2 separate regions of the Homo sapiens genome follow, and region 2 is linked to region 1. A link means that fine-mapping ties the variant in region 1 to the expression of a gene that starts in the linked region. Tissue or cell type: blood mononuclear cells. Region 1 holds a variant in brackets; the other region holds the start of a gene. All regions are shown on one strand. Distances are from middle to middle.

The links. PIP is the estimated chance that this variant, and not a neighbour inherited with it, causes the effect.
Region 2: it holds the start of KANK2, and the variant in region 1 is fine-mapped to the expression of KANK2 in blood mononuclear cells (TOPMed, PIP above 0.99).

What each region holds. Positions count from the first base shown.
Region 1 is chr19:11,223,849-11,231,848 of GRCh38, reverse strand. DOCK6 (dedicator of cytokinesis 6) reads left to right here. Exons shown (of 48, transcript NM_020812.4): 23 at 2,814-2,909; 24 at 4,372-4,512. Among named protein-coding and RNA genes, the nearest start is that of ANGPTL8, 12 kb to the left of the region's middle. The variant C/T (reference allele first, on the strand shown) is at 3,005.
Region 2 is chr19:11,192,890-11,200,889 of GRCh38, reverse strand. It overlaps KANK2 (KN motif and ankyrin repeat domains 2), which reads left to right and starts at 3,345. Exons shown (of 13, transcript NM_001136191.3): 1 at 3,345-3,405; 2 at 5,070-5,268; 3 at 6,300-6,415; 4 at 6,848-8,000. The coding sequence starts at 6,379. It overlaps DOCK6 (dedicator of cytokinesis 6), which reads left to right. Exons shown (of 48, transcript NM_020812.4): 46 at 68-174; 47 at 421-582; 48 at 1,351-1,595. The coding sequence ends at 1,393. RefSeq lists a silencer at 2,862-3,481.

The DNA.
Region 1 (8,000 bases):
ACTCTCAAAGGGCTGGAATGGAACCTCTCGGCTCCCCTATCCCATTTTAGACAAAGAGCTCCCCTTACCCTGCCTCTTTCCAGGTACCTGGTGTAGGGGGACGCTTTGCCTCCAAACAGACCTGGGTTCAAGTCCTAGCTCTGCTATGAGCTCACCCCATGCTCTGAGCAATTGGATGCATCTTCCTGAGCCTCAGTTTCTTCATTTGTAAAATGGAGATAACACTCCAAATTTTCGGATGCAGTTTGGACTCAAAATATAGTGCTCCCCCAGCAGTCCTGAGCCTGTGCTTGAGTTAGGGCTGAGGGCACTGCAGTGGGATTTTGTTGGGATGATAGATTCTTGGTCTGGCCTTGACCCTGAGCTTCCAGCTAGTTGGGGAAATAGACACGGATCAAACAAATGCATAAGTATATGATCACACAGCGTGGAAAGGAAGCAAGTAGCAACCGAATACCAGCTTCCCTCTGGGTGGTCTTGGGGGCTTCTCCAGGGGAGTGACATCTTTTGCTGGGACCCGAAGGGTAAGATAGAGTCAGCTAGGGAAGGGTGGGTGGGTGTGGGTGTTCAGGAAGAGGGAAAGGCATGTACAAATATTGGGACCAAGGTCAGAGGACTGTACGCACAGAGAGGAGGCCACAGGGCTTGCTTCCTTACACACTTGGCCCTAGGGCCTATTCCAGCTCTGTGCCCATCACCAAGGTAACCTGTACCCTATGACAGGCCCAGGGGACTCCTAGCAGAACAAGCAGGGGGGGCCTTTGGGCAGTCATTTCCTTGGATTGCTGGGAATCTGGAAATCTGGGTGACACTGAGGCTGGGCCTTTTCAATGGAAGGCCCTCACGGTGCACAGTGAGTTGCCAGGGTATGGCTGGGACTGGGGTAGCTAGAGAGCCCTCAAGTGTCAGAGTAGGTCCCAGGGTTGGGTCGTCTCTGTCATCAGACCTCCTGTTCCTGCGAGCAGCCTCACCCCCTAACCAGCGAAGGAGGAAGCGAGAGTGGAGCTTGAACTCCTCTGCCTATACCCATTTCACAGATGGGGATACTGAGGCCCAAGCCAGGCTTGGGCAGGGCCAGGCCTGGAACCTTGGGCTCTCTCTGCTATTCCTGGCACCTCACCAACATCTCACCTCCTCTGTCCTTATCTTCCTGCCTTGTCTTTCTCCTCCTTCCCCATCTTGTGTTTAACCTCCTCTGTCCACACTCACCCTCCTCCACCTCTGCATCCTCCTCTCTGTCCTCTAGACTCACTGACTCGGTCACACTCTACACCTCGTCTACACTCACCCTCACCTTCTCTGGCCACACACATTCTTGCTGTCTACACTGATTTCATCTCCTCTGCCTTCACCCCACACACCATGTACCCATTCCCAGCCTTCGTGTGTTCTCGGTCCCACTCCATCCACACTCCTCCTGCCTGTTGTGGTTGCACTGCTGTCACTGGTCACTGGCGTACTGTGTTTTCATTGTTATTCTCACCTCCTCCATCACGTTCTTTTTTTTTTGAGACGGAGTCTCGCTCTTATCACTCAGGCTGGAGTGCAATGGTGCAATCTCGGCTCACTGCAGGCTCTGCCTCCCAGGTTCAAGCGATTCTCCTGCCTCAGCCTCCCAAGTAGCTGGAATTACAGGTGCCTGCCACCACGCCCAGCTAATTTTTGTATTTTTAGTAGAGACGGGGTTTCACCATTCACCATGTTGACTAGGATGGTCTCGATCTCCTGACCTCGTGATCTACCTGCCTCGGCCTCCCAAAGTGCTAGGATTACAGCATCCTCCTTTTTTTTTTTTTTTTTTTTTTGAGATGGAGTCTTGCTCTGTCACCCAAGCTAGAGTGCAGTGGTACCATCACAGCTCACCGCAACCTCCAAGTCCCAGGGTCAAGCAATCCTCCTGCTTTGGCCTCCTGAGCAGCTGGGACTACAGGCACACGCCACCAGGCCCAGCCATATATATATATTTTTGTTTGTTTGTTTGTTTTTGTCTTAGTAGAGTCAATGTCTGACTATGTTGCCCAGGCTGATCTTAAACTCCTGGGTTTGAGCAGTCTTCCTGCCCCAGCCTCCCAAAGTGCTGGGATAACAGGTATTGAGCCACCCCGCCCAGCCTCACGTTCTTCTCCCATACCCACACACCTTGATCTTGACTCACCCAGCTCTCTCCAGCGACTCTTTTATTTGTCCCTGCCTCCACTGCCCCGTCTACTCCCACAGCACCCTGGCCATTCCAACCAGCCTCCCCTCCCAACCCACGCCGGCCCATCTCTCTTTCTTGCCTGTCCCCATTGGCATCCATGGCCCTGGTCCATCCATGTGGAAGCATTTCTCTCTCTATATTCACACTAACCTACCTCTTTTCCCCATCCCTGTCTGTGTGAACACGTCTTTCCTCCAACCACATACCCCTTCACCTCATCCACACTAACCTTCTCCTCGCCATCACATCCCATCATAGGCCATCGACTGCAACTCTAGCCGAGCCTCCTCCTACCTCGAGGGTTCCTCCTCGGCCCCACCAGCCACCCAGCTGAGACCCACTGTGCAGAAGGTAGTGGGGGGAGGTGCGGATGACGCTATTTTTGTCCTGGTCCCCAGCAAAGGGGTCCAGTGCTCCTCCCCCATCCAGAGTCCAGGGGGGTCTGGCGAGCCCAGGGAAAGGGCACTTCCACTCCTCTTGTCCCCCTCCTCCTGCCTGGCTCCTGCTGCACTAACCCCGAGCCCTCCAGCTGCATCTTCCCCTGGCATGTCTCCAGAGGGGGTACGGGAAGGGGTGGCACCTCGCACTCTGTGACCCCTGCCTCTGTCCCCAGCTGCTTCACGAGGAGCTGGCTCTGCAGTGGGTGGTCAGCAGCAGTGCCGTACGCGAGGCCATCCTCCAGCACGCCTGGTTCTTCTTCCAGCTCATGGTGAGACCCCCTCCTCCCTGCCTGGTGGCAAGAGACCCCCAGTGGAGCCCCTTCCTTTTTTAAAGAGAGAAGCCCCCTGGCCAGGCATAGTGGCT[C/T]ACACCTGTAATCCCAACACTTTGGGAGGCCGAGGCGGGCGGATCACGAGGTCAGGAGATCGAGACCATCCTGGCTAACACGGTGAAACCCCGTCTCTACTAAAAATACAAAAAAAAATTAGCCAGGAGTGGTGGCAGGCGCCTGTAGTCCCAGATACTCGGGAGGCTGAGGCAGAAGAATGGCGTGCACCCAGGAGGAGGAGCTTGCAGTGAGCCGAGATCGTGCCACTGCACTCCAGCCTGGGCGACAGAGCGAGACTCTGTCTCAAAAAAAAAAAAAAAAAGAGAGAAGCCCCCTGAAATTGCACCTGAGATATTTGAGAAATGGCCCCAAGAGACCCCCCCCCACAACCTAGGGAGGTGAGAGGCACTTAAGGTGGTGTCTCCCTGGAGAGACTGTACCTGAAACCACCTTTAGAGAGAGCCACCCTTCCCCATGAGACTCTTTAAGGAGAGAAACCATTAAGAGACCCTCACCTAGACAGGAGACCTGCATCCTGCAGGAGATATTCCTGGATAGAGAGAGAAAGCTGTGGTCAGGCACAGTGGCTCACGCCTGTAATCCCAGCACTTTGGGAGGCCGAGGCGGGTGGATCACTTGAGGTCAGGAGTTTGAGACCAGCCTGGCCAACATGGTGAAACCCCATCTCTACTAAAAATACAAAAGTTAGCCGGGCGTAGTAGTGCGTGCCTGTAATCTCAGCTACATGGGAGACTGAGGCAGGAGAATCGCTTGAACCCAGTAGGCAGAGGTTGCAGTGAGTCAAGATTATGCCACTGCACACCAGCCTGGGTGACGGCAAGACTCCATCTCAAAAAAAAAAAAAAAAAAAGAGGGAAAGCTTTCTGATCAAGGTAAGACACATCCCTAAAACTCTTCAATAGGTTATTTGAAGCCTCCTTCCCAGGGCCTGCTGGCTGCATCCCCTCTGGGCCTCCAATAAAGCTCCCTTCAAATCCAGTGCCTCAAGCCCCACCCTTTGTCCCACCTCTGACTTGCCCTGGGGAGACCCGCATAAGCCCCTCCCACATCCTCTCAGCCTTCCCACTCTCTACACTTTGCCTGGGATGCTCACAGGATCTGCCCACGGCTTTCTTAAGCCCCATCCATAGGTCACAAGCCCCACCCACATCCCTCAGGCCCCAGCTTCTACCTGCAGCTACAGGGCTCAAACCTACCTTCAGCCCACCTCCATTGCTAATAAAGCCCCGCCCCTCCTGTCAAGCCTCCTCCACCCACAGCCCTTCAAGCCCCACCCACAGTCCTTCAAGCCCCACCCACAGCCCTTCAAGCCCCACCCACAGCCCTTCAAGTCCTACCCACAGCCCTTCAAATCCCACCCACAGCCCTCTCACCCCACCCCCAGGTGAAGAGTATGGCGCTGCACCTGCTGCTTGGCCAGCGACTAGACACACCCCGCAAGCTGCGCTTCCCCGGACGCTTCCTGGACGACATCACTGCCTTGGTGGGCTCTGTGGGCCTGGAGGTCATCACCCGTGTCCACAAGGTGAGAGATGCAGGGTCTCAATGTGGGAAGAAACCTGAGGGAGGACATAGAGCCAGCCAGGTGGGGGCGCCAATCCTGCCCAGTGTCTCCTGGCCGTAAGACCAGGAATCCACTTTGCTGGGTGGATCCGTTCATTCATTGTCTGTTTCTTAAGTGCCTGTAACGTGCACAGCCCTGTGCTGGGTGTAGCAATATAACAATAAACAAAACAGACCCAAATCCTTACCCTTGTGTAGCTTTTAAGGGGAGACTTGAAGAAAGTAAGGGATCATTCCATGCAATGTCTGGGGAAAGAGCATTCCAGGCAGGGGGAATAGCAGGTGCAAAGGCCCTGAGGCAAGACCATGCTTGGGCTAACAGTAGAGCAGTAAGGATGGCTAGATTGTAGTGAATGAGGAAGGAAATGAGGGTTGGTGGGAGCGGGGAAGTGACAAGGCAGATCCATTAACCCTTAGCACAGTCAGAGTATACAGCAAGTGCTCAATAAATGGATGTTGATGTTCTGAGACCCTGACAGTGGACTTGTTCAGGCCCTGGATTACCAATTCCAATGCCCTCAGGGGCTAGGCAGGCAATACTAATCATAATAGTAATAATATGGAGCATTTATTGAGCACTTACTGTATATCTAAGCATTTTATGTGGATCGTATCATTTTTTTGTTGTTGTTTTTTTTCTGAGACAGAGTTTCACTCTTGTTGTCCAGGCTGGAGTGCGATGGCGCAATCTTGGCTCACCACAACCTCCGCCTCCCAGGTTCAAGCGATTCTCCTGCCTCAGCCTCCCAAGTAGCTGGGATTACAGGCATGCACTACCACGCCCAGCTAATTTTGTATTTTCAGTAGAGACAGTGTTTCTCCATGTTGGCCTGGCTGGTCTGGAACTCCTAACCTCAGGTGATCTGCCCGCCTTGCCCTCCCAAAGTGCTGGGATTACAGGCGTGAGCCACCGCGCCCGGCCTTGGATCGTATCATTAAATTCTCACAACAACCCATGAAGTTAGTATTATTGTTATCTCCATTTTACTGATGGGGAAACTGAGGCATCGAATGAGTGGTAGCTTAACCTTGTACCACACGACTGAGAAGGGGCAGAATGAGGCTTTTGAATCTGAGCCACCAGCTCCAGACCCCTCACTGTCAATACCAGTTTCAGCTGGGAAAGTGGGGCTTATGGTGGAGCAGAGGGCAGATGTCCCACCTAACAGGGGTGACCATCACTCAATCCAGCCAACAGAAACCCTGCAGGAATGTGGCTCAGCTATGTCCAGATTGGCTGTTTTTGTTTTTGTTTGGAGATAGGGTCTTGCTGTGTTGCCCAGGCTGGAGCGCAGTGGTGCGATCATAGTTCACGGCAGCCTTGACCTCCTGGGCTCAAGGGATCCTCTCTCCTCAGCCTCCCAAGTAGCTGTGACCAGAGGCACAAGCCAACATACTTGGCAATTTTTTTTTTTTTTTTTTTTTTTTTTAGTAGAGTCAGGGTCTCACTATGTTGCCCAGACTGGTCTCCAACTCCTGAGCTCAAGGGCTTCTCCCACTTTGGCTTCCCAAAGTGCCGGGATTACAAGCGTGAACCATGCCTGGCCAGATTGACTGGGGTTTTTTTGTGTGTGGTTTTGTTTTTGTTTTTTTATTTGTTTTTGTTTGAGACACGGTCTTGCTCTGTTGTCCAGACTAGAGTGTGGTGGTGTGATCATGGCTCACTGTAGCCTCAAACTCCTGGGCTAAAGCAATCCTCCCACCTCAGCCTCCAGAGTAGCTGGGGCTACAGGTGCGTGCTACCATACCCACCTATTTTTGTGTGTGTGTGTGTGTGTAGAGATGGGGTCTTCCTATGTTCCCATGCCAGGAGATGGCCTGGTGTCTAAGGAGAAATGGGACCTCTGGATTTGCTGGGAACTTTCCAGATTTTTGAAATGGCGTTCTGGCCCAGGCCAACCCTTACACAATCACATGTGACCTCCAAGCTGGTCTCAAAGGTTCTGGCCTTGTCTCACTGGAGCCTTCCCAAAGACTGACATTCCCAGGGGCTGATCCAGATGGTGAGGAAACTACCCCAAGAAAGAGATCCAGAGAAGAACAATGCCTGTGATAATCCACTTTTTTTTTTGAGATGGAGTCTTGCTCTGTCCCCGAGGCTGGAGTGCAATGGCACGATCTCGGCTCACCGCAACCTCCGCCTCCCAGGTTCAAGCAATTCTCCTGCCTCAGCCTCCTGAGTAGCTGGGACTACAGGGGTGCGCCACCATGCCCGGCTAATTTTTTTTTTTTTTTGAGACGGAGTCTCATTCTGTCGCCCAGGCGGGAGTGCAGTGGCGCAATCTCAGCTCACTGCAACCTCCTCCTCCTGGGTTCAAGCGATTCTCCTGGCTCAGCCTCCCAAGTAGCTGGGACTATAGGCGCCCACCACCACCCCTGGCTAATTTTTTGTATTTTTAGTAGAGATGGGGTTTCACCATATTGGCCAGGCTGATCTCAAACTCCTGACCCTGTGATCCACCCACCTCAGCCTCCTAAAGTGCTAGGATTACAGGCAGGAGCCACCATGCCTGGCCGGGTTGCAGGGATTTGAGGGCCACTGAGGCTAACTTGTGAGGCCTCAGAGTGGCTCAAGAGAGTATGAGGGCAGAACGAATACCAGCTGGGCCTCAGGGCCACATCAGCCACCTCACTGTTCCCCGGACTTGCTAGGCACATCCTGCCTCAGGGCCTTTGCACTGACTGTTCCCTTAACCCAGGATGCCATTCTCCCCATGGCTCTTTGGTATCCTTCAGTATCTCTGAAAATGTCACCCCCGTCTGTTAAGGTTGGTGACAAGTAATTATAGGCTGGGCATGGTGGCTCACGCCTGTAATCCCAACACTTTAGGAGGCCGAGGAGGGCGGATCACCTGAGGTCAGGAGTTTGAGACCAGCCTTACCAACATGGTGAAACCCTGTCTCTACTAAAAACACAGAAGTTAGCCAGGTGTGGTGGTGCGCACCTGTAATCCCAGCTACTCAGAAGGCTGAGGCAGGAGAATCGCTTGAACCCAGGAGGCAGAGGTTGCAGTGAGCCGAGATCGCGCCATTGCACTATAGCCTGGGCGACAGAGCAAGACTCCGTCTCAAAAAAAAAAAAAAGAAAGAAAGAAAGAAAGAAAGAAAAGTAATTACAGTTTTTGCCATTGAAAGTAATTGCAAAACTGCAATTACTTTTGCACCAATTTAATATTGTCTTTGAAGCACATAGAACTATCTGAAATTCTTGTTTATTTTGTGTCTCCCTGCCCCCGCCCCACACACACACACTGGATTGAGTTGGACCCGCAGCAGGGATGGCATCTGCCTCATTCACAGGGATTGGCACAGAGTAGATGCTCAGTAAAGCTCACATTAAATGGTGCTGAGAGGCCGGGTGCGGTATCTCACGCCTGTAATCCCAGCACTTTGGGAAGCCAAGGGAAGCAGATCACCTGAGGTCAGGAGTTCGAGACCAGCCTGACCAAT
Region 2 (8,000 bases), 31 kb after region 1:
GATGCAAGCCGCACGGGGGACTCCAGGTGCCATGCAGGCTGGCTCACCAGTCCCTCTCACCCCACAGGGTCCCCTGGAGGTGGCCCAGGTGTTTTTAGCAGAGATCCCGGAAGACCCCAAGCTCTTCCGGCATCACAACAAATTGCGGCTCTGCTTCAAGGACTTCTGCAAGAAGTAGGCGCAAAACCCCCCAGGAGGGGTCTCGTGTCTGCCTAACCTGCATAGGCCTGCTCTCTGCCCATCTGATCTCTGCATGGCTCCCCCATCTGCCCGATTCCCATTAAGTCCACTCTCCCAACCTGACCTCCTATTGCGGGTCTTTCTGCAGGCCTGGTCCCGCCTTATGGGTGCCCCCACCCCTAGTCTTGCTTTCAGTCCCGTGTGCGAGTCTCTGAGCATCTCCCACCCTCTGGCCCTCAGATGTGAGGATGCGCTGCGGAAAAATAAGGCCCTGATTGGGCCGGACCAGAAGGAGTACCACCGTGAGCTGGAGCGCAACTACTGCCGCCTGCGGGAGGCTCTGCAGCCCCTGCTTACCCAGCGCCTGCCCCAGCTGATGGCACCCACCCCACCCGGCCTCAGGTGCCTGACCTAGTGCCCCCATCCTAGAGACTAGAGAGGGGATGCAGAGGCAGACCAGGACAGGTACAGGATGGGGGCTGTTGTACACATACACAGCAACATGTTTGCTGGTAGCTTGGACTTTGTTTTGTTTCCGGTTTTTTTTTTGTTTTTTTTTTTGAGAGACTCTCCCTCTGTTGCCCAGGCTGGAGTGCAGTTGGCACAGTCTTGGCTCACTGCAACCTCCGCCTCCCAGATTCAAGCGAGTCTCCTGCCTCAGCCTCCTGAGTAACTGGGATTACAGGCATCTGCCACCACGCCTGGCTAATGTTTTGTATTTTTAGTAGAGACAGGGTTTCACCATGTTGGCCAGACTGGTCTCGAACTCCTGATCTCAGGTGATCCATCCGCTTTGCCCTCCTAAAGTGCTGGAATTACAGCATGAGCCACCACCACGCCTGGCTGCGGTGGCTTCAATTTTGCATAAGCATCTGAATATGTCATCCAGATGTACAAAGGCAGGGCAGGCTCTGAGCAGTCATTTCCCAGATACATGAATTCATCTTTCTGAGCCTCAGTTTCTACATCTGTAAAATGGGGATGATTCATACCTTCCGTGGTGGACTGCAAGAGAGAATCGGAGAATCCCACAGCCAGATCAGGGACAGGAGAGATCCCAGAAGGATCCTTGGAGGAAGACGAGGAGGAGGAGGAAGAGGATGTGGGCTGGGAGGTCTATGGAGTTGGGGGCCCCATGGCCATGCTGACCCACCCTCATTCTTTTTCCAGGAACTCCTTGAACAGAGCAAGTTTCCGAAAGGCAGACCTCTGAGCCCACAAGGACCAAAGCTGTACCTAGAGGAACCAGCACCCGGGCCTCAGCTGTCTGTGCTGCGAGGGGAGTCTGCCCTGGTGCCCACTGGGCTGTGGGGTGACCACACTGTACTTGGGGCTGGGCCCTCTGCCCCTGTGTCCCCATCTGTGTGCACTGATGCTTCCTCCCTTTTTTAATTTAAAATGGTTTTTATAAGCAACCTGTGCCATGTGGTGCGGTCACTAGGGGCTGGGTCACATGCTCATCACATGCTCACAGTCCACTGCCCCATATCCACACATCCCTGCATCATCAATGGGGACACCAAGAACATACTGGGTGCCAGGGACATCGTGGTGACAACAGGCAAAAATTCCTGCCCTTGTGGAGCTGATGTTCTAGTAGGGAAGGCAACACACAAATAATGTCACATGCTTACCTGCAATAACAATACCTGGTTTTTGTTTGTTTGTTTTTAACAGACGCTCTCACTCAGTCCCCCAGGCTGGAATGCAGTGTCACAGTCATAGCTCACTGCAGCCTCAAACTCCGGGGCTCAAGCCTCCTGAGTAGCAGAGATTATAGGCACATGCCACTGTGCCTGGCTTTTTTTTCTTTTTCTTTTTTTTTTTTTTAGACAGAGTTTCACTCTGTCACCCAGGCTGCAGTGCAGTGGTGCAATCTCGGCTCACGGCAACCTCCACCTCCCAGATTCAAGTTATTCTCATACCTCAGCCTCCCGAGTAGCTGGGATTACAGATGTGCACCACCATGCCAGGATAGTTTTTGTATTTTTAGTAGAGAAGGGGTTTCACCATGTTGGCCAGGCTGGTCTTGAACTCCTGACCTCAGATGATCCACCCACCTCGGACTCCCAAAGTGCTGGGATTACAGGCATGAGCCATTTCTCGGCCCCAGGTGGTTTTTTGTATTTTGTTTTTTGTAGAGATGGCGTCTTACCATATTGCCAAAGCTGGTCTCCAACTCCTTGGCTCAAATAATCCGCCCACCTTGGCCTCCCAAAGTGCTACGATTACAGGCATGAGCCACTGCGCCTGGCCTAATTTTTTTTCACTTAAAAATTTTTTTGCATAGACAGGGTCTTGCTATGTTGCCCAGGCTGGTCTCGAACTCCTGAGTTCAAGCAGTCCTCTTGCCTTGGCCTCCCTAAGCACTGAGATTACAGGTGTGAGCCACCTCGCCGGCTTAATAATATTTATTAAGCCCTTGCTGAGTGGCTGGCTGTGTACTAAAAGGGCTCCCAGAAAGATCTCTGCAAAAGTAGGCCACTCCATTTATGAGAGTTTTTAACCCGAAGGGCCTCCTTCCTGATGGTTAGGCCCCTTCCTAATGGTCAGTGAATCTTCTCAACGCTCCTATCAGGTAGCTAACATGATCATCTCCATTTTACAGATGAATAAACTGAGGCACAGAGCAGCAAAAGTTTGGTGGGTCTGGGATGGGAATGCAGGTCTGGCTGGCGCCGGCGCCCAGGACTCTGCAGCCTCCCTTCTCGCGCGGCGGTCACGCCACCGTGTGCCAGGACTGCGCTGGGCCGCTTCCAGCCCTGGGCCGCCTGGGGGAGGGGTGACCTCCCGCTGCCGCGCCCGCCCCGCGCGCCCTCCCCGAGCTGGGCCCCGGCCAGCTCCACCCCCTCCCGCCGCCGAGCCGTTCCGCCCCCCGCAGCGGCCCAGGGACAGCAGGCGGTGGGGGGGAGGCCGGCAGTGGGAGGACCCTGCCTCGGGGACTTAGGGAGGAAGGAAGGACGAGGCCGGACACCCCGGCGCGCACACACACCTGCTGTCCAGGTGAGATCCAGTCTCCAACCAGCGTCTCTCCATCCCCACCCCCCACCGCGGCCGGGGCGCCCGGGCGGCTGGAGGGGGCGGTGCCGGCTGGGGGGGCGGGACCAGCCGGAGGGGGCGTGGTGCGGGCGGAGCCACCTCCGAGGGCCGGGCGCCCAGGCTGCGGCGCGCGCGAAGACGCTCGGGCGGCGGGACCCAGGGAAGGCAGCGGCCGGAGCGCGCAAGGCGAGTGGGACCCGGGGCTGGGTAGGGGTTCAAGTCTGGTTCGGGGATCGAGTGTGCACCCCCTCCACACACACCTACTACCCTACCCCCCGCCTCCAACCCTGGGACACGACCTCGCTGGTCTCAACGAGCCGCTGCCTCCAACTCCACCTTCTGTGCCCAAACTTTCCAGACTTGGAGTGTCTGTCCCCGCGTCCCTGCCCCCTCCTCGTCTTTGACCCCATACCCCCATCGATTCCTCCCAGTACCCCCCATCGATTCCTCGTGCCCTGCCCGTTTCTCCTGTCTTGGCTCCCCTCTGCCCGCTCTCCCCTGTCTCTGTCCCACTTTCTGCCTCTGTTCCTCCCCGGCTCTGCCCTCTCCCCGCACTGTCCCCCCTCGCCCTCCTCCGCGGCCATGCCCCAGACGGCGGGAAGGCGGCCGGGCGTCCGGCCGGGCTGGGCCTGGGCTTGGCGGCTGGGCCGGCGTGGGGAGCGGCAGCTGTTTGCCATTAGCCCGGGATCCCACAGGCCCCGCCCCCTCTCTGCACGGGGCGGGGTCCTTCTCGCCTCCCCCCACCCCGAGTTTGGGGCGGGAAGACCCCCCCCCACCACCACCACCGACCTCCGCGATGTGCAGGCCGGTCTTGGGTGGTGGGTTGGGGAGACCCGCGCCCCTTCCCTGCGCTCCCTACCTGTCCCCTCTTATAGGCTCCAGTCTCTCCATCTCTGTCTTATCCTGTCACCCCTTCCCCATTCCCCAGGGGTCCCATGGCGAGAGAAGGGTCTCAGCCACAGACATCCATCTCCCCCACCACACCCCCTCGTCTCCTTTCTCTTCCCCTTACTCGGGACGTGCTGGTCCTCATCGAGGGCGGTGAGATGACTGAGTACCCTCAGACCTCAGTCTCCGTATCTGGGAAACGGGTAGAGATATCTGATGTGGAGTCTGAGGGTGGTGGCTTGGTGGGCAGTGGGGGGATCCACCAGGCTTAGGTTCATGTTCAGGCCCAGCCACTTCCCCATGGCCCCAGTGACCCCGAGGAAGCCACTGTACCTTTCTGTACCCTCTGCATCCCCTGTCTGTGAAACGGGGCGATAAGTGCCCATCTCATAGAATTGTCATGACAATTAAAAGAGTTGATGTTAGGCTGGGTGCAGTGGCTCATGCCTGTAATCCCAGCACTTTGGGAGGCCAAGGCGGGCGGATCACCTGAGGTCAGGAGTTCGAGACCAGCCTGACCAACATGGAGAAACACCATCTCTACTAAAAATACAGAATTAGCTAGGCGTGGTGGCAGGTGCCTGTAATCCCAGCTACTCAGGAGGCTGAGGCAGGAGAATCGCTTGAACCTGGGAGGCAGAGGTTGCCGTGAGCTGAGATCGCGCCATTGCACTCCAGCCTGGGCGACAAGAGCAAAACTCCGTCTCAGAAAAAAAAAAAAAAAAGAGTTGATGTTAGTATTACTGTTACTATACTATTTACCCAGCAGCACCCTCACTTCCCCCACCCCCAGCCCACCCCGCTCGGCTATTCCAATCCTGCTCCAATCCCGCTTGCTCCCTGCTTCTCCATCTCTCTTTGGTGGCCAGAAAATATTTTCAATCAACTTTCTGTTGCTCAGGGGTGAGCCTCCAGGCAAATGGAAAACGGAATTTCCTGCAATTGGTGACCATGTGTTCCAGGTGTTGAAAGACAGAGAAGCGAAGACAGAGACGTGGAAAGACAGGGAGAGAGACACGGAGAGAGACGCAGAAGGACAGAGACGTGGAGAGAGACGCAGAGAGACAGAGACGTGGAGAGACACAGAGAGACGTGGAGAGACACAGAGAGACTTGGAGAGAGACAAAGCAAGACAGGACGGGAGAACAAGGACAAGCTCAGGTGCCCCTGGAGCCCCAGCCCTGCCTTCATGCCCAGCAGGTGCCCTACCTGGCCCATCCTCCCAAGGTACCTGCCGGCCCCAGCACTCAAAGGCCAGAAAGGATTTACTCTGATGGTGGGATGGGCTGGGGCCTCTGCAGCATGATGGCTGGAGGTCAGATAACAGAAAGGACCAGCCAAGTTCAGATGGGTTATATTGGGGACAAAAGAGCCCTGGCCGGCCTCCAAGGCTGAGGGGGGTTTAGTGAGAGGCTCTGACTGTCCCTCCCTTTTGCAGCCTCCAGGCGCCCCCTCTTACTTCCTCCCCTCCACCCCCAGGACTTCCTGGGCCTCCACCCGGCCCTCTATCCCTACTGCGCCCCTGGGCCCGGACGCATCCTAGGCGGGCAGGAAGTTCTGTGTAGCCCGGCAGTGAAACTGTTTATTTTTAGAGAAAATTGTTTCCATAAAGGGGAAAGGCTTCACTCCTAGCTGCCTCCCCAACTTTCCCTACCCCTTCCCCCCGACCCAGTCCAGGCCTGACCCAGCTCTCAGCTTTGGGGTCACTGGGGGTCCCCTTCGCCATGCTTTGCCTCTCTTTGTCCCCCTGCGTCTCTGTCTCCTCAGATCCTTGCAGGAAGACGAGGTTCCCTTCTTCCCCAACCCCTTAGCGCCTCAACCCCCATCCTTCCGTGTGGCCAGCTCCGGGCCTGGGCTGAGGGGAGGGGGTGCAGGAAGGGTGGGGCCTGTTGGGCTTGGGGCCCCCCAGCCCCAGGGCTATGTGGAGGCTGGGCTATGGGAACAGCTGGAGCCTGTCCAGGGCCTGGACAGATGTGCAAGCAGGCAGTGAGGTTTGGTTTCTTTGTTCCAGACCTGCGGGGGGGAGGGGGTCGGGGGGGGCCCTTCCGCAGCCAGGCTGGGTGTGCGTCTATGAGTGGGTCCCAGACCTGGGTTGGGGGGCTGGGTGAACCAGCTGTGGAGGGGGCTGGCCTCATCTCCTCCCCTCCCCCTACAGACTCCTAACTCCCGGCGCCGTGGTTCTCTTTCCCCAGGTAAGCCTCAGCCGGTGCTGCAGGCAGTCTGACTCGCAGTCCCTCAAGTGACTTCCAAGGAGCATCTGTAGAAAAGAAGATGGCCCAGGTCCTGCACGTGCCTGCTCCCTTCCCAGGTCAGGGGACTCAGGGAAGAGGGCCCTGCCCCGGGGAGCTTCAGTTCTGGAGGCCTGAGGGGGCTGGGGACCTTGCCCTGGGGACTTTGAGGGTGGGACACAGCCCAACAATTAGAGGTCTGAGGGAGGAGGCAGAGTCCTGCCCTGGGAGGGTCTGAAGGGGGAGGCAGAGTCTTACCGGAAAAAGGGGGTAGTCTAAGCCGAGGGATAGAGCCCTGTCCTGGGGGATTTGAGAGGCGACATAGCCTAGCGCCGGGAGTCTGAAGGGGAGGCATAGCCCTGCTCTGGAGGGTCTGAGAGCAGACGCGGTTGAGTACCAGGTGGGCTCCCATCTCTTCGGCAAATAAACCCCAACTCTCCCCAGGCATCAGTCTTCACCCTGAGAATGGGGACAAGAGGATTCAAAGGTCCTGGTGTTTCTCCCATCCCCAGGGACCCCTGGCCCAGCCTCCCCACCTGCCTTCCCTGCCAAGGACCCCGATCCACCCTACTCCGTGGAGACCCCCTATGGCTACCGCCTGGACCTGGACTTCCTCAAGTACGTGGATGACATCGAGAAGGGCCACACGCTGCGACGCGTGGCAGTGCAGCGCCGCCCCCGCCTGAGCTCGCTGCCCCGTGGCCCTGGCTCCTGGTGGACGTCCACTGAGTCGCTGTGCTCCAATGCCAGTGGGGACAGCCGCCACTCAGCCTATTCCTACTGCGGCCGTGGCTTCTACCCTCAGTATGGTGCTCTGGAGACCCGCGGTGGCTTCAATCCGCGGGTGGAGCGCACGCTGCTGGATGCCCGTCGCCGTCTCGAGGACCAGGCGGCCACACCCACCGGCCTGGGCTCCCTGACCCCCAGTGCGGCCGGCTCGACAGCCTCCCTGGTGGGCGTGGGGTTGCCACCCCCGACACCACGGAGTTCAGGACTGTCCACACCGGTGCCTCCCAGTGCCGGGCACCTGGCCCACGTGCGGGAGCAGATGGCGGGTGCCCTGCGGAAGCTGCGGCAGCTGGAGGAGCAGGTGAAGCTGATCCCTGTGCTCCAGGTGAAGCTCTCGGTGCTCCAGGAGGAAAAGCGGCAGCTCACAGTACAACTTAAGAGCCAGAAGTTCCTGGGCCACCCCACAGCGGGCCGGGGTCGCAGCGAGCTCTGCCTGGACCTCCCCGATCCCCCAGAGGACCCAGTGGCACTGGAGACCCGGAGTGTGGGCACCTGGGTTCGAGAACGGGACTTGGGCATGCCTGATGGGGAGGCTGCCCTCGCCGCCAAGGTCGCTGTGCTGGAGACCCAGCTCAAGAAGGCGCTGCAGGAGCTGCAGGCAGCTCAGGCCCGGCAGGCTGACCCCCAGCCCCAGGCCTGGCCACCGCCGGACAGCCCGGTCCGCGTGGATACAGTCCGGGTGGTAGAAGGGCCACGGGAGGTGGAGGTGGTGGCCAGCACAGCCGCTGGCGCCCCCGCACAGCGGGCCCAGAGCCTGGAGCCTTACGGCACAGGGCTGAGGGCCCTGGCAATGCCTGGTAGGCCTGAGAGCCCACCTGTGTTCCGCAGCCAGGAGGTGGTGGAGACAATGTGCCCAGTGCCCGCTGCAGCTACCAG